5 separate regions of the Homo sapiens genome follow, and all the other regions are linked to region 1. Evidence: fine-mapped expression QTL. A gene starts in region 1. Each other region holds a variant in brackets. All regions are shown on one strand. Distances are from middle to middle. Region 1 holds the start of ST6GAL1 (ST6 beta-galactoside alpha-2,6-sialyltransferase 1). Region 2 overlaps ST6GAL1 (ST6 beta-galactoside alpha-2,6-sialyltransferase 1). Region 3 overlaps ST6GAL1 (ST6 beta-galactoside alpha-2,6-sialyltransferase 1). Region 4 overlaps ST6GAL1 (ST6 beta-galactoside alpha-2,6-sialyltransferase 1). Region 5 has its middle 39 kb from the start of RPL39L.

Region 1 (6,075 bases):
AGACAGAGACATGGAGGAACCCAGCACAAGAGTAAAGTGAACCGTTCAGCAAACACTAAAGAAAGCTGATCCCCAGAGATAATTGCACTATTCAGCATACCTACTACTGGGATCCCTGGCTTTGCTTAATAACCAAACCTATTTAAATCCATAAGGAATTGGTTCTCTGACTTAAAGGGTGTTGTTATAACAACCATAACTTTGGCTTTTCTCTGGAGTACCAACAACTACTGGTTTGATGCAACCATTTCCCTTTTACGCAAAAAGGTGCACTAAAAGTAGACCACGCATTGTTGTGTATCATTAGGCAAGCAATTTCTCTTCTCTAGGCCTCACTTTTCCCATCTGGAAAGTAAAAGGGTCCAGTCACATGATTTCTGAAGTTCCTTACAGGGTCAGCGTCCTGGTGAGAAAACTATACTGCAGTGCCAAGAGGAATTGATGTAGGATTTTTCTTCTTGGTCCTCGGGCCAGCAATGCCCCACCTGTGCTCGCTCGGCCATGCAGGTGTGTCCCAGCTCACTGTATTATAGCTTGTACCCGCGTTCGGTGGTTCCGAGCTCGTGCACCACACCAAAGGATAATGAGGATACACTGGACATTGAAGGGAGAGGAAGGCAGATAAGAATTTTATTGAGTGTTGAAAACAGCTTTCAGCAGAGAGGGGACACCGGGTTGGTCCCCTACCTGAAGACGGAAAAGTTCCCCAATGTGGCTGGGTCAGGGGCCTTTTATGGACTCAGAATAGGGAGTGCATGCTGACCGGTTTGTGAGTATGCAAAAAAGATGAAAGCAAAGACACCACTCAAAGGTGGGCACGGCAGCGTAGAAAACCAATTAGGAAAAAGTGGGTATATGTAAAACAGGCGAAATGTAGGAATCAATTAGGGGAAAGCACGCCAAACAAGTTCTCACTCTGGTCTGAGGATTTAACTCGTAGCTTGGCTTTCAGGCTTTAAACTGTCTTTGGCCTGGAGGTGGGGGTTTCACCGGGTACCTGACCCTATCTGCCTAGGCATCCAGCTGCCTCCTGTTGCTACCAGAATCACATTGAAAGTGAAACACGCTGGAAACTCTAAGGAAAAGAAACAAGTGTAACTAGGAGATAACAGGCACAGTGCAAAACAACATGTTAACTTTGGGGAAATCCGGCTTCTCAGTGTTTTTTTGGTTTTCCTACTTCTCTGCCAAATACAAAAATAAGCAGCTACTTCCATGGGACTCTCGTTAAAAAAAAAGTAACTTTAATAAGATCAGTGAAAACAATGCTTTGTTCTCCCACAAGTGGCTCAGGAGTAGCTTGCTAAGACACACTTTCTTCCCCGTGGGGCTGATGTCAACAGCCCATGCTTTTGCCCAAACAAAGGCCTCCTGGCACAAGGATGAGAGGCAAAACATCTGAGTCTCCGTAGCTGGCCTTATTCCAATTTGAGGGGAAGGGGCAGCCAGGAGAGAAAAATAACTAAGCTTTTGAAAGGCTTGAAGGAGAGTAAGGAATTACTAAATCTATTTTTTCTCAACAGAATAAAGAATTCTTGAAAGGGATAATGGAAGGGTGCAGCTTTCTATTTGAATTACTCTTTGTTTCACCCTATTCTGCCTAAGGCCACTGCCTTTTAGGCCAATCACAGAATCCCGGTTTTGCCTTTAGTTGCCCGCTGAGCGATGCAGTGGGAGTTGGGAGACCCACACTCAAGTGTTCTCTCTGTGGCCCGTTTCACCCGGTTTAAACTTGGACAAGTGGCTGAACTCTCCGGCCTCAGCTTCCTGCCTGTAAAATGAGAAGGCTCCCTAGATGCTCTCTAGACCTTTTCAATAACAGCGGAATAGGATTGGAGGCTCTCCAGTTCCCCCCCCGGGGACAGGTTAATCTTCAGCCACACTAGCCAAGGTGAGGCAGCAGCCCGCCCGCTCAGCAGGCACACACTGGGGCGGCGGCGCCTCCATTCCTGCTCACACTGCACGCCCACAACCTGCACCAACACCATCGCCTCAGAGACCAATTCACCGCGAAACCATCTCCCCGCTGCAGATCGTGTCCGATTAACATCTGCAAAGCTGAGCTGAGCATATGTAAGCAAAGAAAAAGCAAAACAAACAAGAGTTCTCTTTTTCCGGACCTCGGAATTTCTTTCAAATAAACTCAGAACTGAAAATTGTACGTCCCCAGCTAGAATACGAGGTCTCGGCTGGCCTTGCTTGCGAAAATGCATTAACAAGCCAAAAGGGGCTAGTGACATCTGGGGTGTCTGGGCACACGGACACGGGCCTCAGAGGCAAAGAGCAAGACCGCACTGGGCGACTCGTACATTCTTCCCGCAGGCTGAGGAGGCGACCAAAATATCCCCACAGAGGCAATCGCCGGAGTGCGGGGACAATAGTGCACCCAGCACTCTCTTTTTTTGAGGGGCACCCTTAGACCCTTAACCCAACCCACATCTCTAAGAGACCTCCAGGAGGTGAAGGTGAGGGGTGGTCCACTTCACCCAAAAGAATGCGCCACGGCCGGGGACCGACTCAGCCTGGAGTAACCTTTTTGTAGCTGCTTTCTTGTTTTGGTTTCCCTTTTTAAGTCTGGCAGTTTAGTCTGATGCCCAAGCGGTACCTTTTAAATGTCTCTCTCGCCCTCTTCCAGCAAGTGGCGCCTCTAGAGCCACTCCCTCCCCCGAGGCTGAGACAATGGCCCGGCACCGCAGGGCGGCCCCTAAGGGTATGCAGTGCGTCCAGCTCTCCGGGCAGGGCGCACGTGCGTTTGTTATGGTGCCTGTGCCCCCTCCGCTGCCGCGGGCCTCAATTTGTCGATCCGTAAACCCAGACTCTGCAAGGCGCAATGCCCCCACGCCACCCCACCCCATACTGACGGTGCCGTGGAGAAATCCGTGTTCCCCGGGGCTGTGCGCACGTGGGTTTGTTGTGGATCCGCAGGCTCGCGGAGCCAGAGAGAAGCCAGGGTGGCCCTTTGGCCCTGACAAAAATGCACACACCCCCAACCAAAAGGCGGCCAGCCCCGGAGCCAAGGCAGCTGAGGCGGAGCTGGAGAGAGATTCCCTGCGCCCTACGCGCGCCGCGGGCCCCGCGCCTCCGCTATCCTCCCGCGCCCCTTTGCATCACACTCCTCCCGGGATAGCCCGGGCCGCGCCGCCGCCCACCGCACCCCCTACTCACTCGCTGCACTCTCGGCCGCGGAGGCTGCGGTTGCTCAGCACGCTCGGTGGCGGCCGCCCGCTCCGCGCCCACGCCGGTCGGTATCGGCTCCCTTTGTTAACGCCGGGCAGTGCCCCAGGCGTCTTCCCCAGCCCGGCCCTGCCCAGGACTCCCCTCCCCCAGGTGACTCCAGAAAACGCGCTCGGCAAGGGCAGGATCGCCCGGGAGCTGGGGACCCCACTAGGGAGTCTCGAAAGAGGGGTCCGCTGGGGAAGAACGGGGGACAGAAGACGCACAGTGGAAGGGACTGGAGAAGGAAGGAAGAAGAGCGCGGCGGAGGGGCGGGAAGGAAGCGAGTCGCCTCCGTATGCAAATAGAGTTGCGAAGACTGGGTCGGTCTCCGCCCCCACTCCACCTCTCGCCACCGGCCACACCGCGCCCCAAACCGGCCTGGAGGTCGCTAGCGAGCGGGCTTGGGGTTAAAGACTCTTGATGAAGGCACTGGGTGATGCTAGAATCCTGCCTGCTCTCAAGGAGGGTGGATCGAGGGCCGAGTGGGAGGGGCCACGCGGCTGCGCAAGGACCCCTAAATGCCTCTTCCCCGCTTGGCCGCGAGGGGTCAATCCAGCAGTGTCCGGCTTTTGGTCCTAACATGCGGGTGCTGTACACCCGGTCTCTGCTACCGGCTGACTGCGAGACCCTGAGGAAGTCGCTTAACCTCTCCGAAGACTCGTGTTGCTCTTATCTAGAATAGGAAAGAACAAAATCTTTCACTGCGTTTGGCATTAACCTCCTAACATTGAGGCATGACTCCTACTGGGCGCTCTCAAATGGCAAATACAGAAGGAGAGGAGCGTCCTCGAACCCCTGCACCCAGAGGCTTCCACCCCAAGCTGCAGGCTGAAAGACTGAAGCCTCAGCCTGGATGGTGAAGGGAGCGAGGTTCTTTCTTTTCACCCGGACGACGGTGGGGCTGCTGGGGAAGGAAAGAGGATTAACCAAGCTGCGTACTGACCATCCCCGATAGCCCCAAGGCGATTTCCCTAAGAAAGAAAAACTGCCCAACAGGAGGGCGGAAGGGGCCTTTAAGGCCTCCAGTCCAGCCTCCCATAGCCCAAAGAGAGGATGTGACTACCAGAGGCAATAGTCATATCCCAGTTGTCTACTGAGTGCACACTAGGCACCAGGCTGTGTGCTGGGTGGGAAAGGGGAAAGGAAGGAGATACTGGAAGGTTTGGGGGTCCTCTGGGAACACAAAGTCCAGTGCACACTTAAAGTGCCTGAAGCCCAGGCCCAGAGTTCTGTCTCCAAATGAGGTGCCTACCCCACATCACCAACCTTGGAAAGGGAAGTTACATCCGCACCCTGTCCCCAGCACCCTTCTTCCAAACACTGCTTCCTCCCTGTCCTGATCCTGGCTCCCTTCTGCTGATACTGTCATTCCCTTCCCTGCTGCCCCTGAGGCATTTTTGCTCAGTACAAAGAGCTCCAATTGAAGGGAGTGCCAGCCAGAGTGAATTCAAATCTTTATGACCAACTCGCTGTGCCTTCTTGGGTGAGTTCCACATCCTGTGAGCCTCCCTTTCCTCTTCTGCAAAATGGAGATATTAAGGAAAGCGTTGTTTTCAGGATCCTGTGAAATGACCTACGTGAAACACGTAGCTTAGTGTTTGGCATATAGAAGGTGCTCCTGACAGTAAAATGTATGTATGCGTGAATGAATAGAAGCAGCCAAGTTCAGAAGACTATTTCTGGAAGGATGCTACATTGAAGATTTTAGGCCCTATTCGAAAAAGGGAAAAAAAAAAAGGAGGCTATTAAAAGATTCTGTGCAGTAGCATGACATGCATCTTTGTATTTTACAAGGATTCCTCTGGCACCACACTGGAAAATAGATGGCAGAAGCAGAGAATGCAAGAGACTAGATTGGAAGCTGACATCAATGGAGATATAATAAGAGCCTGAACTGTGTCAGTGACTGTAACAAGACAGAAGAAAAGGACATCTAAATAATAGCTACCATTTGGAGATCTGACATGGTTTGGCTCTGTGTCCCCACCCAAAAATCTCATCTTGAATTGTAATCCACATGTGTCAGGGGAGGGACCTCCTGGGAGGTGATTGGATCGTGGGGGGCGGTTTCCCCCATGATGTTTTTGTGATAGGGAGCTCTCACGGGATCTGGTTGTTTGATAAGTGTCTGGCATTTCCCCTGCATTCTCTCTCTCACCTGCCGCCATGTAAGATGTGCCCTGCTTCCCCTTCACCTTCCACCATGATTATAAGTTTCCTGAGGCCTCCCCAGCCATATGGAACTGTGAGTCAATTAAACCTCTTTTGTTTATAAATTACCCAGTCTCAGGTAATTTATAATTTTCTCAGTAGTGTGACAATGGACTAATACAGGATTCAAAGCACCTTATTTATTACATTGTCTCTCCTTTTCATCAGATAAGTAATGGTCTTAGTCCTATTTTATGGATTAGGAAACTGAAGTCATCTAGGAAGTGAAGAGAGAATTTGACACATTCTTCCACTTTCTTTGAAAGCTTTAATCATCTCCTTCATCATCACCCATATGTCAACATTACTTAAGAACTAAGAACAGCCTGGTGCGGTGGTTCACGCCTGTAATCCCAGCACTTTGGGAGGCCTAGGCGGGCGGATCATGAGGTCAGGAGACCAAGACCATCTTGGCTAGCACAGTGGAACCTTGTCTCTACTAAAAACACAAAACAAATTAACCGGGGCTGGGCGTGGTGGCTCACGCCTGTAATCCCAGCACCTTGGGAGGCCGAGGCGGGCGGATCACAGGTCAGGAGATCAAGACCATCCTGGCTAACATGGTGAAACTCCATCTCTACTAAAAATACAAAAACAAAATTAGGCGGGCACGCGATGACGGGCGCCTGTAGTCCCAGCCACTCAGGA
Region 2 (6,075 bases), 91 kb before region 1:
ACCAATTCTCTCAATAATGTCTTTTACACTAACCTGCTCAAAAGGGGATCCAAACAAGGACAGGACATTTTGTTTGGATGACTGGATGATGTGCCATTTTCAATTCTCTCTTATCTAGAAGAGTTCCTCGCTCCCTTACTTCTTCTTTTCCACGGCATATATTTGTTGAAAAAATGAAGTCATTTCTCCTGTGGAGTGGCTTATGTTCTGAGCCTGGCTCACGGCTTCCTCAGGGTGTTGTTTAATGTTCTCCTCTCTGCTCTGTGTTTCCTTAAACTGAGTGTTAGATTTCAAGGCTTGTTGAGATTTGGTGGTTTCAAATTCAATGGTTCTCCCAGGCTTTTTTTGTTAAAATATATACACATATACTCTCTCTCTCTCTCTCTCTCTCTCTCTCTATATATATATATATATATACACATATATATGTGTATATATGTGTGTGTGTATATATATATAGAGTATATGTGTGTGTGTATATATATATATAAAACATTTAGGCTGGGCGCGGTGGCTCATGCCTGTAATCCCAGCACTTTGGGAGGCCGAGGCGGGCAGATCACGAGGTCAGGAGATCAAGACCATCTGGCTAACATGGTGAAACCCCCGTCTCTACTAAAAATACAAAAAATTAGCCAGGCGTGGAGGCATGCACCTGTAGTCCCAGCTACTCAGGAGGCTGAGGCAGGAGAATCACTTGAACCTGGAGGCGGAGATTGCAGTGAGCAGAGATCATGCCACTGTACTCCATCCTGGGTGACACAGCGAGACTTTGTCTCAAAAAACAAACAAACAAGCAAAACATGTATATATGTATATATATAAAACATATATATGTATATATATACCCAAAAGGATCTAAGTCCTGGTAGTCTAAGGGAGTTGGAGGTGAGGAAATGAATAGGGAAGGTTGAGTTCTTCTACTTTGTGGTGGCCCCGGGGCCTGTAAGAAAACTTACACCAATACTCATGCGATAGGTTCATTCTTTTTTTTTTTTTTAATTATTATTATACTTTAAGTTTTAGGGTACATGTGCACAACGTGCAGGTTTGTTACATATGTATACATGTGCCATGTTGGTGTGCTGCACCCATTAACTCATCATTTAGCATTAGGTATATCTCCTAATGCTATCCCTCCCCGTTCCCCCCACCCCACAACAGTCCCGGTGTGTGATGTTCCCCTTCCTGTGTCCATGTGTTCTCACTGTTCAATTCCCACCTATGAGTGAGAACATGTGGTGTTTGGCTTTTTGTCCTTGCCATAGTTTGCTGAGAATGATAGTTTCCAGCTTCATCCATGTCCCTACAAAGGACGTGAACTCATCATTTTTCATGGCTGCATAGTATTCCATGGTGTATATGTGCACATTTTCCTAATCCAGTCTATCATTGTTGGACATTTGGGTTGGTTCCAAGCTATAGGTTCATTCTTTCAGCAAATGCTGATTGCCTACTGTGAACCAGACTGCAGACACAGCAGTAGAGAAGCCAGCCAGAAATCCCTAACCCCTCCAGCACTCACCTTATAGTGAGGATAAATAAAGAGTCAAACAACATAAATCCGTGGTGCTTTGCAAGGAGATAACTGATATGCAGACAATTAGAGTAGGGAAGAGAAATAGGGACAGCTTGGAGTGGGTGAGGTGGAGATTTAAATCAGATGATCAGAGAAAGCCTCACTGAGAAGAAGACATTTGAGCAAGGGTTGGAAGGAGGTGTAAACCAAAAATAAAATCCTAAGCCCCCCACTAACCAACTGAATGGACTCCTTTTTGGCCATGGGCACCCCAGAGAAACCTGAAAAACTGAATTCCCAGCCATGACAGAAAGGAGGTTACACCCTCATCATACCCCTCCCTTTTGGGGTTTAGGTACAAGTGACCAGCATTAAGGTAAAATAGAGATTATAAGACTGACCAAACAGACCCTTTATGACAATAAGATACCAAACTATACACAATACCTAAGGCCATAAAAGGCAAAGATTAAGTCATACCCTAGAAACAATACAGTCTCATTAAATGGGTTTTTTAATTAACCCAGTAAAATGTGGCTTACTCTCCAACCTGACTCTGGTATAGTATCACATGACAGACAGCAGACTCTGAAGGAAATTAAAATATTTTGCCCCAAAATACATTTCTTTGACATATTTGGAAAAGGCTGCCAGACAGCCTTTGGACTGCAAAGCCATCTTTGGTGGGGGAAACGTGCATCTCCAGAGAATCGATATTAATGTCTCTTCCCTTGCTAGGCCTTTCCCAGATCTAGGAGAGATTCTAACTGAGAGTCAGACACCCAAAGGTCTGAGAAGAGACAATCACTATCTATTCACCCAGAGGGCTGCTATCTATGAGGCTCCAAGGACCTAGGCCCCCACAACCTCCTTATCTTACTCAGGCATTCCTTCCTACTGACTTCAAGTCACTAGACAATAACTTGACTCTCTCAGCTACTGTTAGCTAAAGAATCCCTAAAACGCACTTAAGACTTGTAAGGCCCCTCAGCCCTCCCCTAACCCTCTACCCCCCAAGTCCCTGTGTAGGGAAAACTCTCTGTAGCCATCTTTCCTCTGCTCTCACACCACAACAATCAACACAGAAGATGACTTATGTGACCATATGTGTGGGGGTCCCACCCCAACACCAAGCAGCGACACCAGCTTGGTGTCCTCTAATTCAGTTCCAACACTATCTACCTGGAAATAGTGTCAGATCCTACAGATTGAGGGCTTAGTGTCCAAGACATCCCCCCTCCACCAGTCACAAGTCCAGGCCTCCAGAACTTCTTTCTGACCAACCAGCTTCCATTGGGGTTCCCCTCTCCGTGGGTTCAATTAATTTGCTGGAGCGGCTCACAGAACTCAGGGAAACACCCTACTTACATTTACTGGTTTATCATCAAGGATGCTGCAGAGGATACAGATGAAGAGATGTGTAGAGCAAGGTATGGGAGAAGGGATGCAGAGCTTCCACGCCCTCCCTGGTTGTGCCGCCCTACAGGAACCTCCTCCTATTAAGCTATCAGAAAGTTCACCCAACCCTGTCCTCTTGGGTTTTTATAGAAGCTTCCTTGACGTCAGCATTTCTTCCCCCAGGGCATAGGGTAGGAACCTCTCATGGGAAGGTTTTTTTTTTTTTTTTTTTTTGAGACAGAGTCTCGCTCTGTCGCCCAGGTTGGAGTGCAGTAGCATGATCTTGATTCACTGCAACCTCTGCCTCCCGGGTTCAAGCAATTCTTCCTGCCTCAGCCTCCCGAGTAGCTGGGATTACAGGCGCCCACCATCACACCCGGCTAATTTTTCTATTTTTAGTAGAGACGGGGTTTCACCATGTTGGTCAGGCTGGTCTCGAACTCCTGACTTCAGGTGATCCACCCACCTCGGCCTCCCAAAGTGCTGGGATTACAGGCATGAACCACTATGCCTGGCCTCATGGGAGGGTTGTAAGGCCCACAGTCAGGCCAGAAAACATAAAAACCTTGCCTTGGGGCAGGTGAAAGGACGGCAGGAGAGAGACTGTTTCTTAGGGCCTGTCCCTGAAGTCTAAAAAGCCCAGCATTCTAGCAAGACTGTAGCAAGGGCTATGGGGCTATGCGCCAGGAAACATGCATGGAAACCAACACATAGTCCAGGCATGATGGCTCACGCCTGTATTCCCAGCACTTTGGGAGGCCAAGGCAGGTGGATCACGAGGTCAGGAGATCGAGACCATCCTGGCCAACATGGTGAAATCCCATCTCTACTAAAAATACAAAAATTAGCCGGGCGTGGTGGCATGCTCCTGTAATCCCAGCTACTCAGGAGGCTGAGGCAGGAGAATCACTTGAACCCAGGAGGCAGAGGCTCAGTGGGCAGAGATCACGCCATTGCACTCCAGCCTGGGTGACAGAGCGAGACTCCATCTCAAAAAAAAACAAAAAAAAAAACCACCAATACATATATCCTAACACCGCACCCTCCCCCACTTTGAGATGTCTCACATTTTTTGGACAGAACTACCAGTTACCTTCCATGTACTGATTTCCAGATATCCTTGCCTGTAATGCCTGTCTCCCTAAAATGTATAAAACCAGACTATGGCCCAACTGCCTCAGGGCCACTCACTCAAGGCTTCTTGGGTTTGTGTTTTCTCTAAGCTACAGTAACTCATATTGCCTCAGGATAAACTTCTTGAAAATATTTTACAGAATTTGGTTTTTCTGTTAACAGAGATGAAGGAGGCTACCATGCAGATTTCTGAGAAAAGAGGGTTGCAAGTAGAGGGAACAGCAAAATACCTACACAGGGGCAGCCAGATAATGTGGCGCCTTACACAGGTGTAGGGGTTTTGGCTTTCATCTGATTAAGACTTTGCCGATGTATGTTTCAAAGGCATCACCGGATGCTGCCTTAAGAATCAACTGTAATGAACAGCAGGTCTTATAGATGTTACCAAATTTAATTCTTACCACCACCCTGTGGGGTGGGGTATTAACAATCCTCTTTTTTAAATAAAGAAATTGAAACTCAGAGAGTTTAAGTCATTTGCTCAAGATGTCACTGTAAATGGTGAAACCA[C/G]GGTGTGTTTTGTTTTTTGTTTGTTTGTTTGTTTTTGAGACAGAGTCTCGCTCTGTTACCAGGCTGGAGTGAAGCAGTGCAATCTCGGCTCACTGCAACCTCCACCTCCCAGGTTCAAGCAATTCTCTGCCTCAGCCTCCCGAGTAGCTGGGATTACAGGCACCCGCCACCACGCCCGGCTAATTTTTGTATTTTTAGTAGAGACGTGGTTTCACCATCTTGGCCAGGCTGGTCTTGAATTCCTGACCTCGTGATCCACCCGCCTCAGCCTGTCAAAGTGCTGGGATTACAGGCATAAGCCACCATGCCCGGCTGACCAGATTATTCTAACCAACAAACTGGTAGTGCTCTTCATCCTATGTCCCTCTACTCAGGCCCTTCCAAGGGCTACTGCGAGCCTCTCTGCTTTATCACACCAACTACAGTTGCTAATCACTGTATTGACCTTCTGGTGACACCTATTTACTCTGCCCTGATCTTCATCTCCTTAATCTTTAGTGCACAAACCTCACCCTCATCTGGACCTTAGAACCCAAACTTTCTGTTCTTAGACTTAGAGTGCTTGACACCCTGTTGCCCCCAGAGGGTGGCATAGTGCCTCCGAGAGGGGCTCCATGTGTCCTGGCTGCCAGAAACCCTCTCCCATGAAGGACTCCCATTTCTCTAAGAGCTTGGATTCTTAATGTGTGCCACCTGAGCTGCCACTTAATGCTGACCCTTCTTTCTCTTTCCTCATATCAGGGATAGCTGGCTGCCCCACAAGAAGTTTGCTCCTTCTGCCATATAGTTATTGCTGTAAATTACTGTCCAGAGAGGGATTGCATTTTACACACACACAAACACACACAGCATATAGATGGGATCATTTTACTAGTTATTGGCAAAGAAATGTGAGCAAAAATAACATACATCACTTCTGGGCCAAGATGGTTAAGACGTGAGTTTATTTGCTCTAGCAGCTAGCATTACCCTATAGAGCTACTCAATAGAGACTTCCTGAATATTTATTTCTATGGTTTAAAACCATCAACAGAATATTCAGCTATAGATTTTTCATATCTCCTCATCCCAACATTTCACAATCCCAGTGAAACAACAGAAGCACACCCTAATTTAATCAAAGCCAAGAGGTCCTAAATTCTTTCACATCAAATCATATCTCTTGTATTTTGTTTCCCCCGACACGATTCCAAGATTTTGAAAGATGTTGTCGACTAACTTTAATTTAAAATTTGAGTTATTTGTTATCAAATGAACAAAGATACTGTTGCCAATCAGAGGTTCTGAATGGCATGAGATTGCCACGACTACCACAGTCAGTTGATAAAAGTTTAGCATAAAACAAAGAAACTTGATTTTCTTGGCTGCGCAGGTTTGCCGTGGTGAACGTGCTTCTCCCATCTGGCTTTTCGAGATACTCAAGTGTCTGGTGGATCTCTGGAGGCCCTGGACAAGGGACTCTGGTTTGTGGAGCTTACTCCAATAATCGTAACTTTGTGATTACAGCCATAGAC
Region 3 (6,075 bases), 47 kb before region 1:
ATCTCTTGATCTCGTGATCCACCTGCCTTGGCTTCCAAAAGTCCTGGGATTACAGGCGTGAGCCACCGCGCCCATCCGACCTCTATCTTTAAAATCTAGTGTCAGGACTAATAAGCTTTTTAAAGACGTATATTCTTTCACAATAAGCTGTCCTTTCAATTCATTTATATTATAATACTAACAGCTAACATTTCTTGAGGGCCAACCATGAGCCACAACTTACAGGCAGGAAGGCACAATATAGCGTTTCTTAAACTTGCCAGATCCTAGTATCATCCAGGGTGCCCGCTGCATCCACTGCTCCCCAGGCTCCACCCCAGCTGGGCTGAATCTGAATCTGAGACAGGGCCTGGGAATTGCTCTTTTAACAAGAGTCTCAGGTGATTCTTAGGATCAGGCAAATTGTAGACCAATGGCACAATGGTTAAGGTGTGACATATCAGGATCCATGATCTGATTCCATCATCGTTTGTTTTATGGCTTCAGGCAACTTACTTAACCTCTCTGAACCTCAGTTACGTATCTGGAATTTCAGAATGATGACAGCATCTGCCTGTAGGGTATACGGAGGAATAAATGAGATAATGGTCATCAACCACTTAGCATAATGCCTGGCACATAGTAAGCTCTCAACAGTATCACCAACATCACTGACCTGATTGGTGCTATAAAAGCTGCATCCCTATTATTTTTGCTCAGTGCTACACAATTAGCAATTAAAGTGCCCGAGACCAGGATTTAAACTCATACCTGACCATCTCCGAAGCATTAAGCACCTACACAGCAACTTCTCGGAAGCCTTGGCAGCAGGGGAAGGAGAAATTAAACAGGCAGGGGGCCCGGTGGCATAGAACAACCCACATATTCAGGTACTGGCTCCAAATTCATGTTTGAATTCAGCTCACGTTGCATTCTTAGGAGCAGCTATTACGCAGATGCTACAGCCAGAAGGATGCCCCCGAGCACTATGTATTAAGGAAGGAAAGTTTGTCTTGGACTTCCTCCTGTCTCTGTTTCGACTCCTCTTCTACCCCTACCCTCCTTTGGGGACCATCCAAAATCCCCACTTTTTCTCCAGGTCTGCCCAAGGAGTTCCTCTCTTGGGAAGCAGATCAGGCACAGAGTTTGAGTCTGGCCTGGAGAACAGGGAAGACCTAAGCTTCACTTCCCAACTGTAAGGCCTCCCACTGTTACTTCACCCCTGGGACCTTCTCTCAATAGGTCCTAGGCTCATTTGCAGTAATGCTCCAGGCAGAGTGCATAGCTCACTGGTCAACTAATCAATAACGCTAGGCCTCAGGGTATCACCTCTCCTTTCTCTGAATTCCCCCAACCTAACCTAACATTTCAGTTAAAGTGGGGCCACCTGTGACTCACACTTTATATACAGTTTGTTTTACAATGAGCCCTCATTCATTTGTTCACACAAATATGCCCCAAATACAGATGATACAGAAATAAATAGGGCCCAGCTCCTGCTGCTGAGGTCTTAGAGAAAAGACCATAAACTAGTGGGTGGAAAATCATGTAAAGCATTAAAAACTAAGGGCCGAGGAGGTGGTGCCAACTCTACTAGAGGAAGTCAGAAGTCAGAAAAGGTAAAGTTCATCCTGGGTTTTGAAGTTTGAACAGGAGTTCACCAAGCAGAGCAAGGCATGCCCAACAGAGAATAGCAGTGCAAAGGCTCAGTCATGAAAGTGGCCCATTGTGTTCAGGGATGGGGAGAAGCTGTGAGGTGGGACAGGGTATAAGGGCTGCAGTGATGAGAAATGGTCTTCGACAGGACATCTGCTCCAGACAGAGGTATTTCTAGTCCCAATTTATCCTGCAAGCAACTGGGACTGGTGGAGGTTTTCTAAGCAAGCAAATAACATTATTAGATTGTTTTCTCTAAACTCCGTGGTGTGCTCCCAGCACTAAAAAGGAGCTTTGATGGAGCACGAAGAGGTGAAGAGGGGCCATTTCCGTGAATAAAGGAAAGGGTGCCAGAGACCATCTTTTCTGGCTCCTGGTCTGGCCTGCAGCCCCACCATCCACCCAGCTAACCCCTGGCTCAGCAGATAGTGAACTCTGGTCAAGTCCCTCCTGGAACACCAGGCTCCAGAAGCTGTTAACAGAGTAACGTGGAGAGAGAGGAGTGGGAACCAACTGCACAGATAAACTGAGGAGGAGTCAGAGAAATATGATGTGTCTAGTGGCTCACAGCATCCTGAAAGGGGCAGGAGCTTCCAGCTAGATAGACTATGTTCAAATTCCACCTCTACCTTTACTACCTGGCATAACCTTGGGTAATTCCCTTAACCTCTCTGAGACTGTTTTTTCTTTTTTCTTTTATTTTTATTTTGACACGGAGTCTCGCTCTGTCACCCAGGCTGGAGTGCAGTGGCATGATCTCAGCTCACTGCAACCTCTGCCTCCTGGGTTCAAGCGATTCTCTAGCCTCAGCCTCCCAAGTAGCTGGGATTACAGGTGTGCGCCACCACGCCTGGCTAATTTTTGTATTTTTAGTAAAGATGGGGTTTCACCATGGCCAGGCTGGTCTCGAACTCCTGACCTCAGGTGATCCTCCCACCTTGGCCTCCCAAAGTGCTGGGATTACAGGCATGAGCCACCACGCCCGGCCGAGACTGTTTTCTTATCTATTAAATGGCAATAACAAGTCCCATTCACTTCAAAGGCTTGTACTGAAAATTAAAACTATTTCAAGTGATGAGGATAGTGACCACTACAAGGAATAATGGCTCTCTAAATATTATTAAACTGATTATTAATATCTTCATTTTTATTTTATGTGTCTTTTATATGATGTGATAAAATCCCTCAGGCTAAAAGATCTTCAAATACAGCAGGCCCCTGGAGGCACGGGATGGAATTAGCCCTCCTGAGGCGCTCAGAGGACGGCTGTGTCTCCTGCGTGAGACTGATCAGTTCCTTCCAAGTTGCCTTCCGCCCTCCTTGGCTGCCTGCAGTTTCTGTAGGATCATATTTCCCACCTGACCCAGTGGGCCCAGGAGAGCTGTGGGCCTTGTAGCTCTGAGCTTTTCAGAGGTCTCACATGACAACCTGGCAGGGTGCAGCTGTTCCCGGCAAGGGCATTAATAATACAGGCCTTCTTCCGCAAACTCTGGC[C/A]AACAGTCTAAAATGACAAGTGAAAACACTGAGTCCAAATTCTCCCTGGGGCTTAGGGCAGAGGAAGCCAAAATAGCTCGCCTTTATCAGGGCTAAATCGTGGAACTAAATCAGGGTTCTGCTAGCGGTGGTGGCTAAGGGAAACCGCTGGTGATAAAAGCAAAGAAATGGGGGAGAAGCCGTGGGGGAGGGAGCCACAGTCACACTCCTTACAGAATAAACTATCTCGCCTAGGGGCAGTTTCAGCAGAAGGCTTCAGAGACCCCCGGAAGCAGACAGAAAGAAGTCCACATGCCTTGCTGGCTGAGGAGCAAATCGGGTCATGAATTTCATCTCAGCAATAGCCAATAAACACAGCAGCTGCTATACCCAGCCCTGAGACATCTAGCACAGGAGACTTTATAAAGAACAAGCCGATCTCCTCTGGCAAGCAAGCCACAAATGGAGAAGGTCTTGGCAGGATTTTTGTGTCCTTTATTCATATGGTATCAGCACCTAAAACAGTGCCTGGCATTAAAGCACTAGGTAAATATGAGTGACTGAAGAAATACATGCGTGGGGAGAGAATATAAACCAGCAGCACCAGTTAGTAACTATACAAAGGTAAGCAAGCCATTCAGTCTCTAGGAGCCTCTATTTCTTCATCAGGAAAATAGGGTAATGACACCTACTTTGAAAGGGTCTTATAAGAATTAAGGCCGGGCACAGTGGCTCATGCCTGTAATCTCAGCACTTTGGGAAGCCAAACTAGGTGGATCACTTGAGGTCAGGAGTTTGAGGCCAGCCTGGCTAACATGGTGAAACCCTGTCTCTACCAAAAATGTAAAAAATAGCCGGGTGTGGGGGCACATGCCTGTAGTTCCAGCTACTTGGGAGGCTGAAGCAGGAGAAGCGCTTGAACCCGGGAGATGGAGGTTGCAGTGAGCCGAGATAGTGCCACTGCATTCCAGCCTAGGCAACAGAGCAAGACGCTATCTCAAATAAAAAAAAAAAGAATGAAATAAAATGATGTATGTAAACACCTCTAAAACAATGCTTGGTAGAAGTAGGCACTCAGTAAATGGACTTCAATCTTCAGCTACAAATTTGACCTCAATCCTCAGCTATAAATCAGACCTCAACTATCAACTCTCTGTTTCCAATTCTTACGGAGGAGGGGAAGGTTGGGGGAGGTGAATAAAAGGAGAGCGTAAACCAACTGAAGATGAGAAATCAAAGGAAAGCAAAGGAAAGACCCACAAGGTCACACCTCACTGGATGACCTTGGACAAGTCAGGTACTTTGCTGGGTCTCAGAGTTCTCTGTGGTAGGATGCAGGGAGGTGAGTTTGATCTGTGGTCTTGAAACTGTGTGCAGGAACTCTAGCGAGCCCGTGGAGACCCTGAGGGGCTGTCTTGGGGTGGGGAAGAAGGAGACCAGTGGGTCCCGAGCAGTTGCAGGCAGTTTCCTATGGGAGGCTGGGAGGCTGTCCTCAGAAGAAACAGTCCCACACTTGGTCCAGTTTGTTGTAAACTAATGCTTTCTCCGAGGTCCCCAGTTCCTCCCAGGGCCAGGATTGGGATGAGGTAAGGGAGGTCTCACCCTAGTCCCAATCGTGAGTCCCCCAGACCTCCTTCAGTGCCAGCCTCACTCACTTCTGTGGCGTTTGGCACAGCCAGCCACCCTCTCTGGAAGTCTCTCTCCACTGCCTGCCCTGGCACTGCCTTTCATGGGTACAGTGTTCTGTTTCTCTCCATCTCTTTCGCTGGATCCTCTCCTTCCTCCTGGGCAAGAGAAGTAGAACAAGAGGGAAGAAGTGGATGGGAGAGTACAAAGAGGCCATGGAAGAACACACTGTGGGGAAGTTCAGTTGTGGACAGGCAGAGGGAGACTGGTTGAACAGCAAAAGGCAGATGGCCAGGCAGGTACGAACCTCAGGGACAGAGAAGAATCACTCCCCATCACCTGGCAGAACTTTCTCTCCCCTGCACTTCTTCTTTCCTTGCCTCAATGCCCCTGTCCAAGTCAAGTCCACATCATCTAATACTAGGACCCTCACAACAGTCTCCCAACCCATCCCTTGCTTATCTTCTCACAAAAGATTAATCTCCTGAAGTCCAGCTCTGAATCATTAAGCTCCTCCTCAGACACTGAAATTGCATCTTCCATGTTTACTCCATTAAGTGCAAATGCCTCTCAGTCTAGTATACAAGGCCATACTCCCACTCACTCCCCAGCCTCCAAGCAACACCCACCGTGCACACAGGCACCCGCTTCCCTGGATTCACCCTGGCCACCGGCCCTGACGTTGCCTGCACTCCTTTCCTCCCTCAGCGCACCCTCGCCCCAATTTCACCTGTCAAATCTTTGCACTGTAAACAGCAGACCCACGCTCCTCTTTTCCAAGATCCTGCATCCAGGCCTGCCAAAGCCCAGAGCTATTTGTAGATGTTGGCGAGGACACGTCTCTCTGTCTGCTCAGTCAATAATTCACTGCAATACCAGGTATTGCAAAAGAAGGCCTTTGCCTTGCCTTCCAATAAGAGTTACAGGGTAGAAAGCAGAAACCTGCCCTGCAGCTGCCATGAACCCCACCTGAGCAGGCAAGTTAGGCTACACTTGACAGTGGAAGCTCATCAGCCACAGTGAAGCAGCCCCCACCACTTGTTTATTTATTTATTTCCCTTTGCACCCAACCCTGCTGTGGGCGCCCCCCCCCCAACCAGGCTCTCAGTAAATACTAATTGAATTAATTAATTAATTAATGAGATCTTCCTGCTGGGAGCACAGAACTAATCCCATAAAAACAAAAATAATTCTCCTGTCTTTTGCATCTAAAGCTGACCCCACTAATGACGGAAATGTTCTATAACTGGATTGTGGTGACAACTGCACAGCTCAGTAAGTTTACTAAAAAAAATCACTGAATTGTATACTTAACATGGGTTGATTTCATGGAATATAAAC
Region 4 (6,075 bases), 76 kb before region 1:
CAAGAGGACAATTTAACTTGTCCTCTTCCTTTAAAGAGGACAAGTTAAATATGTTATGAAATGTCCACACAAAGGGTTATAATTTTTTCTTTTTTTAGATGGAGTCTCGCTCTGTTGCCCAGGCTGGAGTGCAGTGGCGTGATCTCGGCTCACCGCAACCTCCGACTCCCGGGTTCAAGCGATTCTCCTGCCTCGGCCTCCTGAGTAGCTGGGATTACAGGTGCCCACCACCACGCCTGGCTAATTATTGTATTTTTTAGTAGAGACGGGGTTTCAGCATCTTGGCCAGGGTGGTCTTGAACTCCTGACCTCATGATCCACCCGCCTCAGCCTACCAAAGTGCTGGGATTATAGCCGTGAGTCACCATGCCCAGCCACAATGGGTCACGATTGAACAATTAAAAATAAATTCATAAACATTTCTTACAGTTTTTACTTTTAAAACATTTATTCACTTACTTATTTTTAGAGACCGGGTCTCACTCTGTCACCCAGGCTGGAGGACAGTGGCACAGTGATAGCTCACTGCAGCCTTGAGCTCCTGGGCTCAGGCCATCCTCCCTCCTCAGCCTCCCAAGTAGCTAGGACTACAGGCACACACCACCACACTCAGATAAAGTTTTAAAATAAAAAATTGCACTCATAGAAAACTATAGAAAGTAGCAATAATGAACCACCATGTATCCGTTACCTAGCATCAACAATTATCAATTCAGGGTCAATAATGTTTTATTCATAGCCACCTATCCCTAAGTATTTTAAGTAAATCCCAGACATATCATTCCATCCATAAACATGTAATTATGTACCTTTAAAAAAATACGACCATAGTACCATTAAAAATAATTTAAAAACTTAAAAGTTTTTTTAATTATTGACTTTTTAACAAAACAGGAAAATGCTCACAATATAGATTGAATAAATAAAGAATATTATAAAACTATATACTACATAATCTTAGTTGAAAGAAAAAGGGAGGAAGAAAGAGGGGAGGTAAGGAAGCAAAGAAGAAAAGAAGGGAGGGAGGGTGGGCAATTTCACAAATAGAATCAAAGCATTAAAAATGTCCATCTTCTTTTAATTCAGTAATTCTATCTCCAAAAAAGAATTATCAGAAATGCTGCCAAAGACTGTAGTTTGACTTCAGTCCATGCATAACCTGAAACAACCTCAAATCCCAACAAAAAGGAATATTTAAATATGTTATGAAATGTCCACATGAAAGGAAGAGACAGAGAGAGAAAAACCAAAAAAGAAAAAGAGAAACGCATATTCACAGAAAAAAAAGACTTAAAGGAAATAAATCTAAAATATCGCCAGTAGTTTGTAGTTACCCATGTCATGAGATTTATGTTTGTGTGTATTTTTATCAAGGGGAATGTATTAGATATTTATTATTTCTCCTGCTCTTCTTTTGTTCCTCAAGTTTTAACTTTTCCTCTAGTACAGCTTCCCTTCAGGTTGAAAAACTTCCATTAGTATTTCTTTAAGAGGAGAGCTCCTGGAAATGAAGCCTCTTGGTTTTCCATCACCTGAAAATATCTCTATTTTGCTTTCACTCCCAAAGAATATTTTTTCTGGATATAAAATTCTGGGTGGATAGTTTTTTTGTTCTTCCAGCATTCTAAAGACGGGGTTTCACTGTCTTCGTCTTTGGCCACCATGGTTTTGGATGAGAAATGGACAGTCATTCGAATAGGTTTCTTCCTTCCTTCCTTCCTTCCTTTCCTTTTCTCTTTTTTCTTTCTTTCTCTCTTTCTTGAGTCCTTCCTTTCTTCTCTTTTCTTCCTTCCCTTTTCTTACGTATAATGTGTCATATTTTAATGCTCTTAATGTTTTTTAATCCTTGGTTTTTAGAAGTTTTCTTATGAGGTGGCTGAGGAGTTGTTATTAAATGTATCCTGTTTGAAATTACTGAGATTCTTCAATTTGTGAAGATACGTTTTTCTTTAAATTTGAAACTATTTCAGCCACTCTTTCTCCAAATATTTTTTTCTGCACCAGTATTTTTCTTTTTACCTTCTGAGATGGAATGCCAATACCAAGAAGTTTCAGCCTTTTGACATTGTCCCACAGTACCATGAAAGGCTTTTCATTTTTCTCCAATTTTTTTTTGTTTCATAATGTATATTTCATTGTGTATACTTTCTATTGATCTACCTTCAGGTTCACTGACTCTTTTCTCTGTTATATTTATTCCGCTACTGGGCCCATATCATCTTTTCAGGTCTAAAATTTCTATCTGATTATTCTGCAGTTTCTAGTTCTCTGCTGAGAACTTCTATCTTTCCTAATTTCAAGAACTTTCTAATTTCAAGAGTGGAGAATGGTCATACCTACTTTATTTGTCTAATAATTTCACGATCTAAGTCATTTCAGTGTTACTGCCTATTGAACTGTCTTTTCCTTTGAGTACTGTTTAGATTTTCCAGGTTGTTTTGATATTGAGTAAATTTGAATTGTATCCTGGATTTTTTAATATGTTGTGAGACTCTGAATCCTGTTAAAAATCATCTGAAAAATGTTTGTTTGTTTGTTTGTTTTACCAGGAAATTAATCCACTTAGGTTCAGACTGAAAGTACTGTCTCACTTTTTATGAGTGTTAGCTCCAGTGTCAGATCAGTTTTCAAAGCTTTTGGTATGCCATTTGAGTCAATCTGTCACATGCTCCATTCAAGAGTTTGTCTGGGACTTGGGTGGTTGTTAATATCATAGTTAGATTCTCAAAACCTCTTCTGTGCCTCCTGGGTCTGTTCCATGCATGCACACCTTGTAGTGTGCCCAGGACTTTTGTCAGTCCAATTTGTGGATCCCTTTTTCCACCTCTCTCCTCTCAGGGATTTCCTCACACTCTCTGGCTTCCAGTGGCTTTTCCCCCCTGCTTCCTCTAGTTAGAAAGATGGAGTTATCTCGGACTCTTAGCTTTCCACACTGTTCTGCAAATCCATGTTCATCGTGAGTCATTGTTCAAGTTTTGAACCCAGTACTCTGCCTGCCTGCTATTACTTTTCAGAGTTTTCATGTGGTTTTTTGCATCCTATTCAGCTTTCTGTTGTAAACATTGGTAGAGATTGTGGTTGGATTATTTCATCTTGGCTGTACTAGCAACTCATCCTTCTCAGCAATTTACTTCTCATCCATGTTTCAAAACTCCACTAAAATACCACTTCCTTCTAAGAAGCCATCCTTTTTCTCCCAGCTAGAAAACTTTCCTCTTCCTCTCATTAGGGAAGAAAGGGATTTGGCAATCTTGAGAATAAAACTTAAAGCCAAATTTTTTTCACGATTCTCTTTGTTCAAACATCTGAGTCTAAGGAGATGACTGGAATGAAATCAAACTTAATCAAGAAGCACAATGGTGGTTAAAAGTGGACTTTGGGGCCAGATTGCCAAAATTCCAGCTCTGCTAATTGCTAGATGTGTGACCTTAGACAAATCACTTACTTCTTTTTACCTCAGTTTCCTCATCTATGAAATTAATAATAATAATACTTACCACATAGAATTATTATGAAGATTAAGTGAGTTAATAGTTGTAAAGCACCTAGAAAAATGCCACACTGTAGGTGATTACTATGAATCTCTCACAGGTTGCCGTAACTCTACAGATGAGAGAACCCTATGCAGGGAAAAGGGGAAAGGAGCACACAGGGAATTGGCTCTATTTTCACCTCTTCCTATGTCCTGAAAGTGACCATAATTTTTGTTTTGATAAATACTTGAAAAAGCCCAATTTGTGTTCTGTGTAGATCTGAGAAGTCATGTGGCAGAGTGGGGACATGATTACATGAGGTAGGTTAGATCTGGCTTCCAGACTGGCTCTCCTTTGGGTCTAGGTTTTATGTTCTAAATCAGACCACAGAGGTAGACTGGTCTATCTACAAGGAGCCGACGGAATGATCTCTGTAAGA[G/T]GCAAATGGAACTGGGCCATTTCTCAGTTTATCCTCCAATGGTTCCCTGAAACACAGATAAAATATAAATTCCTTAGGCTGTCCCAGAAGACTAGTGACTTTTGCTGCTGCTGCTATCTGTAACCTCATTTCCTGCCACTCCCCAACAGCCCTCACATTGCAGCCATACTGAACTCAGGTTGGCTCACCCCACTTGCACCACTTCCCTCATCCTCAAGGTCAGATATCCCCCCACCATCTTGTCAAAGATGCCTATGTCTCCTCTTCCATGCAAGTTACTGAAGGGCTTTCCCAGACTCCCCAGGACCCTGTTGGTCGGTCCTTCCCTTCTGTGTGCTCCCACAGCCCTCTGACCATATTCTAGTAGCACTTTCTGGTTGACAGTAATCAATTATTTTATAGGTCCCTCTCTCCCTCGATACACCAGTGTTTTTCAAAATACGTATTATTTTACATCAGTGGATCTCAAAAGCAATTTGGGCACAAGGACCAGGTTTTTAAAAAGAGAATAAACAAGATTTTAAAATATCAGAATCCACTGCATGTAATAAGAGAAAGTAGAGCTTCATGAAACTTTTGTCTCAAATAGATCATTAGAAAGATGGATGACAGATGCCGGGCGCCGTGGCTCATGCCTGTAATCCCAGCACTTTGGGAGGCCGAGGCGGGCAGATCACGAGGTCAGGAGATCGAGACCATCCTGGCTAACACGGTGAAACCCCATCTCTACTAAAAAATACAAAAGTTAGCCGGGCATGGTGGCGGGCACCTGTAGTCCCAGCTACCGGGGAGGCTGAGGCAAGAGAATGGCATGAACCCGGGAGGTGGAGCTTGCACTGAGCCGAGATCGCGCCACTGCACTCCAGCCTGGGCGAAACAGCGAAGACTCCGTCTCAAAAAAAAAAAAAAAAAAAAAAAGAAAAAGAAAAAGAAACATGGATGACAGATAATGAACCCCACAGACCCATGACCAGTTTCAGTATTATCAACTCATGGTCAGTCCTGTTTTGTGTATACCCCACTTACGCCTACATCCCTAGATTTTGAAACAAATCCTGAACTCATCATTTCATTAATAAATGTTTCAATATATAAAAACCTTAAAAAAGAAAGACCTAAAAAAAAAACTGCAATACCATAAAATGTACTTCTTATTGATGGTGGCAGTCAAAAACGTTTGTAAGACTTAGAAGCTCCTAGGGAGAGATGCCACCTCATTTATCTCTGCATTTTCATGCCCTGGCACTCAATAAGTGCTGAGTAATGAAAGGAAGAAGAGGAGAAAGAGAAAGGATAGAAGATAGAAAGGTTGTAAAAGGGAGAAGAAAGAAAGATGATTTCTTCTCTTTTAGCTTTGAATCATCTTGAAGTATTTTCAATCAATTTCTCTAAAGGAAAGAAACACCAATTTAGCTTCCTCATCAATAATTAATTCCTGAATAAGTAAGGTTTCTGTATTTGTTGTTTTCTCTCTGGGATGTCACATATGACTGTACAAGTTGTTCACTGCATAATGGCATCTGGTACTGGCTGAAAGGGCATCCTTTCTTAATAGCACGAAAGTGCCGTATAAGCTAACAGGACATCATTCTCGCTCCCGACTCTAGTGTATTACATATTGCTACCTTGGTCCACTCTGCTGTTTTCTTCCCTTCCTCCTACACTGCCTATGGAGGCTACAAGCAGGAGATTCTTCCTGGGCACCTGGAGGTATCTTCTCAGTAATGCTTATAAAAGGCCATCTTTCTATAGAAAAACTTTGGTATCAGAAGCAGGACCTCTCTCTTAGGAAAAGTCCTGGGCTCTGGGGCTGGCTCTGCCACTTGCTAGTCATAGGACTTTCAGATAGTCTCCCTGTGTTAGTCTGTTCTTCCATTGCTATAAATACCTGAGATTGGGTAATTTACAGAGAAAGGAGATTTAATTGGCTCACAGCTCTGCAGGCTGCACAAGCATGGTGCCAGCATCTGCTCACTTGCCGGGGAGGCCTCAGGGAGCTTTTAGTTATGGTGGAAGGTGAAGCAGAAGCAGGCACATCACATGGCGAAAGCAAAAGCAAGAGGCAGTGGTGGGGAAGGTGCTACACACTTTGAAACAACCAGATCTCATGAGAACTCACTGTTGTGAGGACAGCTCCAAGCCATGAAAGATCCACACCCATGA
Region 5 (6,075 bases), 170 kb before region 1:
GCCAAGATGGAGTAAAAGAGACTGGATTTACCCTCTTACATGAAACAAATAAAGAACATGAAAAAAATAACAATATTTAAAACATTGGAAATCAGGTAATAACGAATAGTGGATTCCTGAGGAACAGGAAGCAAACAAGTGGTATCCAAAGGGAACAAATTATTGCCAGGAAACTTAATTGCATCCCAGAACAAAGCTCAAGATATTGATAAAAATACAAAAATATCTAGCACCCCAAAAGAAAATACTTGCAATGTCTGGCATCCAATAAAAGATGACCAGTCATGCAAAGAAGCAGGAAAACGTTATCCATAGTTAGGAGTAAAATCAGCTAGAACTGACCCATAGATGATATACTTGATATAATTACTAGACAAAGACATAAAAATAGTTGTTAAAACTGTATTTTACATATTCAAGAAGCCAAAGGAAAGATCAAAACTATAATATCTCGGATAAAAACACTCTGGATGGGATTAATGGCAGACTTGATATTGCAGAGGAAAATATAAGTGAACTTGAAGACATGGCACTAGACACTACCCAAAATAAAATAGAAGAAAGAATAATTTAAACAATTTAGAAAGGACCAATGAGCTATGGAACAGCCTTAAGCAACCTAACATTCATGTTATTTGGTTCTCCAAAGGAGGGTGGGCATGGGGGTCCATACCTATAATCCCAGCACATTGGGAGGCTGAGGCAGGGGGATCACTTGAGGCCAGAGATTTGAGACCAGCCTGAGCAATAAAATAAAAATTTTCTTTGACGAGACAGGGTCTTCTATGTTGAGGGAGCCAGGCATGGTAGCATGCACCTGTGGTCCCAGCTACTCAGGAGGCTGAGGTTGGAGGATTGCTTGAGCCCAGCAGACTGAAGCTGCAGTGAGCTATGATCACACCACTGCACTCCAGCCTGGGTAACAGGAGAAGACTCTGTCTCAGAAAAAAAAAAAAAACAGATTTTTCAAATCTGATTAAAACTGTAAACATAGTTCCAAACAGCTCAAATAACCCTAAGCAGAAAAAAAAAAAACCCACAAAGAAAACTACAAGAAGGCATATCATACTCCCATTACTTAAAACTACTGATAAAGATTAAAAAATCTTAAAAGCAGTAAAAAAAAGACATTGAGAATGACATCAGCAAGAAGACAGAATAGGAATTTTCCAGCTCCATTTCTCCTCCCCCACCACACATACATACACAAATCCACTGGCAACTACTCACAGACAAAAACACCCTTGTGAATATTCCAGAACTTGAGAGTGAAGCTAAGACACCCCCTTATACCGCAGAACTGAGAACAGCCGCATGCCAAGAATAAGAGGAGTAGTTTCACTTTGGCCACATTGCTCCTCCCCCAAGCTGGCAACGTGCCACACATAGAGGATTCTCTGGGACCCATGGTTGTTACACAGGGAGGAGAGAGTTGGAGGTGAACATTCAGCTTTGCCACCATTCTGGGACCCTTCAGAGGAAGTGTTCTCTTGTCTCATCACACAGGAAGCACTGGGAGTATCAGCAGAGCTAGACATCTGAGATCACTTGGAGATAAAGAACAGATGTGGGGCTCACATCAACTAGTGCAGGAATCTTGGCAGCTGTCCTGCATTCAGGCCAGTGGAGGTGCACCACCAGAGAAGCTAGCCAACAGCGCTGCTCTGGACTAAGCACAGTCAACTGGTCTCTCAAATTCAGGTACCTGGCCAGCTTCCACAGCCAGTCCTGTTACCCTCCTTGAAATTTACCCAGGCTGGGAGATAGGGGCAGGGCAGTGATTATCTGTAAAGGGAGTATCTGGCCCCACCCAGCTCCATCAGCCAAAGAGCTAAAACACCAAGCCTCAGTGCTCTGCTTAAGGTTATCCTGGGATGAGAAGCAAGCTCAAGTTCACGCATATCTGTGAAGCATCGCCTCTGGCCCCGTCCACCCAGAGTAGTTAAGTAGTGATCCGAGAAGCCTTGCTCAGCCTCAGAGCCCAGCATGCAGTCCTGCCAAACTACAGATTCAAAACTGCAGTACTGGCCAACCAGAGAAGACAGCCTACAACACGGCCTGTCAAGGAGCAATCAAACAGCTCAGCCTTACTGCAGAGTCCAGCCACTGGTCTCATCAGACTGCGGAGCACAGCCAGCATTTCAGGTTTGTTTGTTTTTTTTAAAGGAGAACATTTTATTAATACTAGCTATTTCCAATAAATTCTCTGAATAATTGTAATGTTGTCTTTCTCTGTACTTCATGCCCTTAATATTACACTCATTTCTTTTATATATATGGTAAATTTAATTTCTCCTTTCTTAAAATTATTACTTTATTTCAGTAGCTTTTGGGGGTACAAGTGGTTTTTGGTTACATGGATGAATTCCACAGTGGTGAAGTCTGAGATTTTAGTGCACCTGTCACCCGAGCTGTGTACACAGTATCAAATATGTAGTCTTTTATCCCTCACTGCCCCGAACCTTCCCTGCCCCATGTCTCCAAAGTCCATTATATCACACTGTATATCTTTGTATCCTCATAGCTTAGCTACCACTTGTAAGTGAGAACATATGGTATTTGATTTTCCATTCCTGAGTAATTTCACTTAGAATAATGGCCTCTGGCCCCATCCAAGTTGCTTCAAAAGATATTATTTCATTCCTTTTTATGGCTGGGTAGTATTCCATATACCACATTTTCTTTATCTACTCATTGGTTGATGGGCACTTAGGCTGGTTCCATATCTTCACAATTGTGAATCGTGCTGCTATAAATATGTGTGTGTGTGTGTCCGTTTCATATAATGGCTTCTTTTCCTTTGTGTAGACACCCAGTAGTGGGATTGCTGGATTGAATGGTGAATCTGCTTTCAGTTTTTTTAAGGGCTCGCCATAGACGTTGTGCTAATTTACATTCCCACCAGCAGTGTAAAAGTGTTCCCTTTTCATCATATCCTCGTGAACATCC[G/A]TTTTTTTTTTATTTATTTTTTATTTTTTAATTATGGCCATTCTTGCCGGCGTAAGGTTGTATCTCATTGTGGTTTTAATTTGCATTTCCCTGATGATTAATGATGATGAGCATTTTTCATATGTTTGTATACTTCTTTTGAGAATTATCTACTCCTGCCCTTTTCCCACTTTTTGAAGGGATTATTTGGTCTTTTACTTGTGGATTTGTTTGAATTCCTTGTAGATTCTGGATACTAGTTCTTCATTGAATGTGTAGTTTGAAATATTTTCTCCCACTCTGTGGGTTGTCTGTTTGCTGATTATTTATTTTGCTGTGCAAAAGCTTTTTAGTTTAATCAGTTCCCATTTATTTATTTTTGTTTTTGTTGCATTTGCTTTTGGGGTCTGAGTCATGAATCCTTTGTGTATGCCAATGTCCAGAAGAGTTTGTCTAATGTTATTTTCTAGAATTGTTATGGTTTCAGGTCTTAGATTTAGGCCTTTGATCCATCTTGAGTTGGTTTTTGTATAAGGTGAGAGATGCAGATGGTTTCATTCTTCCACAGGTGGCTTGCCAGTTTTCCTAGCACCATTTATTGAATAGGATTTCCTTTCCCAAATTTGTGTTTTTGTATGCTTTGTTTAAGATCAGCTGGCTATAAATATGTGGTTTATTTCTGGGTTATCTGTCCTGTTCTATTGGTCTACCTGCCTATTTTTATACTAGTACCATGCTGTTTTGGTAAGTATAGCCTTGTAGTATAATTTCAAGTTGGAATATGATGCCTCCAGATTTTTTTTTTCTTAGTATTGCTTTGGCTATGTGGGCTCTTTTTTGGTTCCATGTGAATTTTAGTATTGCTTTTTTCTAGTTCTGTGAAAAGTGATTATGGCATTTTGATGGGAATTCCATTGAATCTGTAGTTTGCTTTGGGCAGTGTGGTCATTTTCACATTATTAATTCTTTCCATCCATAAACTTGAGGCATGTTCTCATTTGTTCGTGCCATCTGTGATTTCTTTCAGCAGGGTTTTGTAGTTTTCCTTGTAGAGATCTTTCACCTCCTTGGTTAACTATATTTCTAGGTATTTTACTTTTTTTTTGCAGCTTTGTAAAAGGGATTGAGTTCTTGATTTGATTCTCAGTTTGGTCGTTGTTGGTGTATAGCAGTGGTACTGATTTGTGTACAATGATTTTGTAACCTGAGGCTTTACTGCATTTGTTGATCAGATCTAGGAGGCTTTTGGATGAGTCATTAGGGTTTTGTATGTATACCATCATATCATCAGCAAACAGTGATAGTTTAACTTCCTCTTTTCCAAATTGGATGACTTTATTTCTTTCTCTTGCCTGATTGCTCTGGCTAGGACTTCCAGTACTATGTTGAACAGAAGTGGTTAAAGTGGGCATCCCTGTCTTGCTCCAGTACTCAGGGGGAATGCTTTCAACTTTCTCCCATTCAGTATGATGTTGGCTGTGGCTTTGTCATAGACGGTTTTTATTATTTTGAGGTAAGTCTCTTCTATGCCTAGTGTGTAGAGGGTTTTTATCATAAAATGATGCTGGATTTTATCAAATGCTTTTTCTGCATCTATTGAGATGATCATATAGCATTTGCTTTTAATTCTGTTTATGTGATTTATCACATTTATTGATTTGTGTATGTTAAACCATCCCTGCATCCTTGGGATGAAACTCACTTGATCGTGATATACTATCTGTCTGATGTGCTGTTGGATTCAGTTGGCTAGTATTTTGTTGAGGATTTGTGCATCTTTGTTCATCAGGGATATTTGTCTGTAGTTTTCTTTATTATGTCCTTTTCTAGTCTGGGTATTAGGGCGATACTGGCTTGATAGAATGATTTGGGGAGGATTCCCTCTTTCCCTATCTTTTGGAATAGTTTCAGTAGGATTGGTACCAATTCTTTGAATGTCTGGTAGAATTCAGCTGTGAAACTCTGTGGTCCTGGACCTTTTTTGTGTCAGCAATTTTTTTTATTACGGATTCAGTCCACTGCTTGTTATTGGTCTGTTCAGGATTTCTATTTCCTCCTGATTTAATCTAGGAAGGTTATATGTTTCCAGGAATTTATCCATTTCCTCTAGATTTTCTAGTTTGTGCACATAAAGCTGTTCATAGTTGTCTTGAATGATCTTTTGTATTTCTGTGGTATTCTGTGTAATGTCTCCAGTTTCATTTCTATTTGAGCTTACTTGGATCTTCTCTCTTCTTTTATTGGTTAATCACACTAACAGTCTACCAACTTTGTTTATCTTTTCAAAGAACCAGCTTTTTGTTTGATTTGTCTTTTGTATTTTTTATTGTTGTTGTTGTTGTTTCAATTTTGTTTAGTTCCACTTTGATCTTTATTTCTTTTCTTCTCCTGGCTTTGGGTTTAGTTTGATCCTGTTTCTCTTGTTCCCTGAGGTGTAAAATTTGGTTGTCAATTTGTGTTCTTTCAGACTTTTTGATGTAGGCGTTTAATGCTATGAACTTTCCTCTTAGCACTGCTTTTGCTGTATCCCAGAGGTTTTGATAACTTGTGTCGGTTATTATCATTCATTTCAAATAATTTTTAAATTTTCATCTTGATTTCATTATTAACACCAAAATCATTCAAGAGCAGATGATTTAATTTCCATGTATTTTATAGTTTTGAAGGTTCCTTTTGGAGTTGATTTCCAGTTTTATTCTACTGTGGTCTGAGAAGATACTTGACATGATTTCGATTTTCTTATATTTATTGAGACTTGTTTTGTGGCTTATGATACAGTCTATCTTGGAGAATGTTCCATGTTCTGATAAGAAGAATGTATATTCTCCAGTAGTTGAGTAGAATGTTCTGTAAATATCTGTTAAGTCCATTTGTTCTAGCATATAGTTGAAGTCCACTGCTTCTTTGTTAACTTTCTGTCTCAGTGATCTTTCTAGTGCTGTCAGTGGAGTATGGAAATTTCCCACTATTACTGTGTTGCTGTCTATCTCATTTCTTTGATTTAGTAGTGATTGTTTCATAAATCTTGGAACTCTGGTGTTAGGTGCATATAAATTTATGGTTGTAATATCTTCTTGTTGGACTGATCCTTTTATCATTATATAATGTTATTCTTTGTATTTTGTTTGCTTGTGTTTGGCTGTTGTT

What was found. PIP is the estimated chance that this variant, and not a neighbour inherited with it, causes the effect.
Region 2: its variant is the best candidate, but not a certain one, in a credible set for the expression of ST6GAL1 in whole blood (TOPMed, PIP 0.88).
Region 3: its variant is the best candidate, but not a certain one, in a credible set for the expression of ST6GAL1 in nasal epithelium (TOPMed, PIP 0.84).
Region 4: its variant is the best candidate, but not a certain one, in a credible set for the expression of ST6GAL1 in blood mononuclear cells (TOPMed, PIP 0.60).
Region 5: its variant is the best candidate, but not a certain one, in a credible set for the expression of ST6GAL1 in whole blood (INTERVAL, PIP 0.81).

What each region holds. Positions count from the first base shown.
Region 1 is chr3:186,927,925-186,933,999 of GRCh38, reverse strand. It overlaps ST6GAL1 (ST6 beta-galactoside alpha-2,6-sialyltransferase 1), which reads right to left and starts at 3,474. Exons shown (of 8, transcript NM_173216.2): 1 at 3,166-3,474. RefSeq lists enhancers at 1,028-1,087, 1,108-1,157, 3,251-3,859 and silencers at 3,054-3,243, 3,484-3,563.
Region 2 is chr3:187,018,817-187,024,891 of GRCh38, reverse strand. All of the region lies in intron 2 of ST6GAL1 (ST6 beta-galactoside alpha-2,6-sialyltransferase 1), which reads right to left. Among named protein-coding and RNA genes, the nearest start is that of ST6GAL1, 91 kb to the right of the region's middle. RefSeq lists a silencer at 585-674, an enhancer at 2,641-2,910, a cis regulatory region at 2,913-3,006 and a promoter at 2,913-3,490. The variant C/G (reference allele first, on the strand shown) is at 4,562.
Region 3 is chr3:186,974,480-186,980,554 of GRCh38, reverse strand. The region is part of intron 2 of ST6GAL1 (ST6 beta-galactoside alpha-2,6-sialyltransferase 1); the gene reads right to left. Among named protein-coding and RNA genes, the nearest start is that of ST6GAL1, 47 kb to the right of the region's middle. RefSeq lists an enhancer at 4,175-5,056. The variant C/A (reference allele first, on the strand shown) is at 3,130.
Region 4 is chr3:187,004,025-187,010,099 of GRCh38, reverse strand. All of the region lies in intron 2 of ST6GAL1 (ST6 beta-galactoside alpha-2,6-sialyltransferase 1), which reads right to left. Among named protein-coding and RNA genes, the nearest start is that of ST6GAL1, 77 kb to the right of the region's middle. The variant G/T (reference allele first, on the strand shown) is at 3,913.
Region 5 is chr3:187,097,230-187,103,304 of GRCh38, reverse strand. No RefSeq gene overlaps it. Among named protein-coding and RNA genes, the nearest start is that of RPL39L, 39 kb to the left of the region's middle. RefSeq lists an enhancer at 1,335-1,384. The variant G/A (reference allele first, on the strand shown) is at 2,950.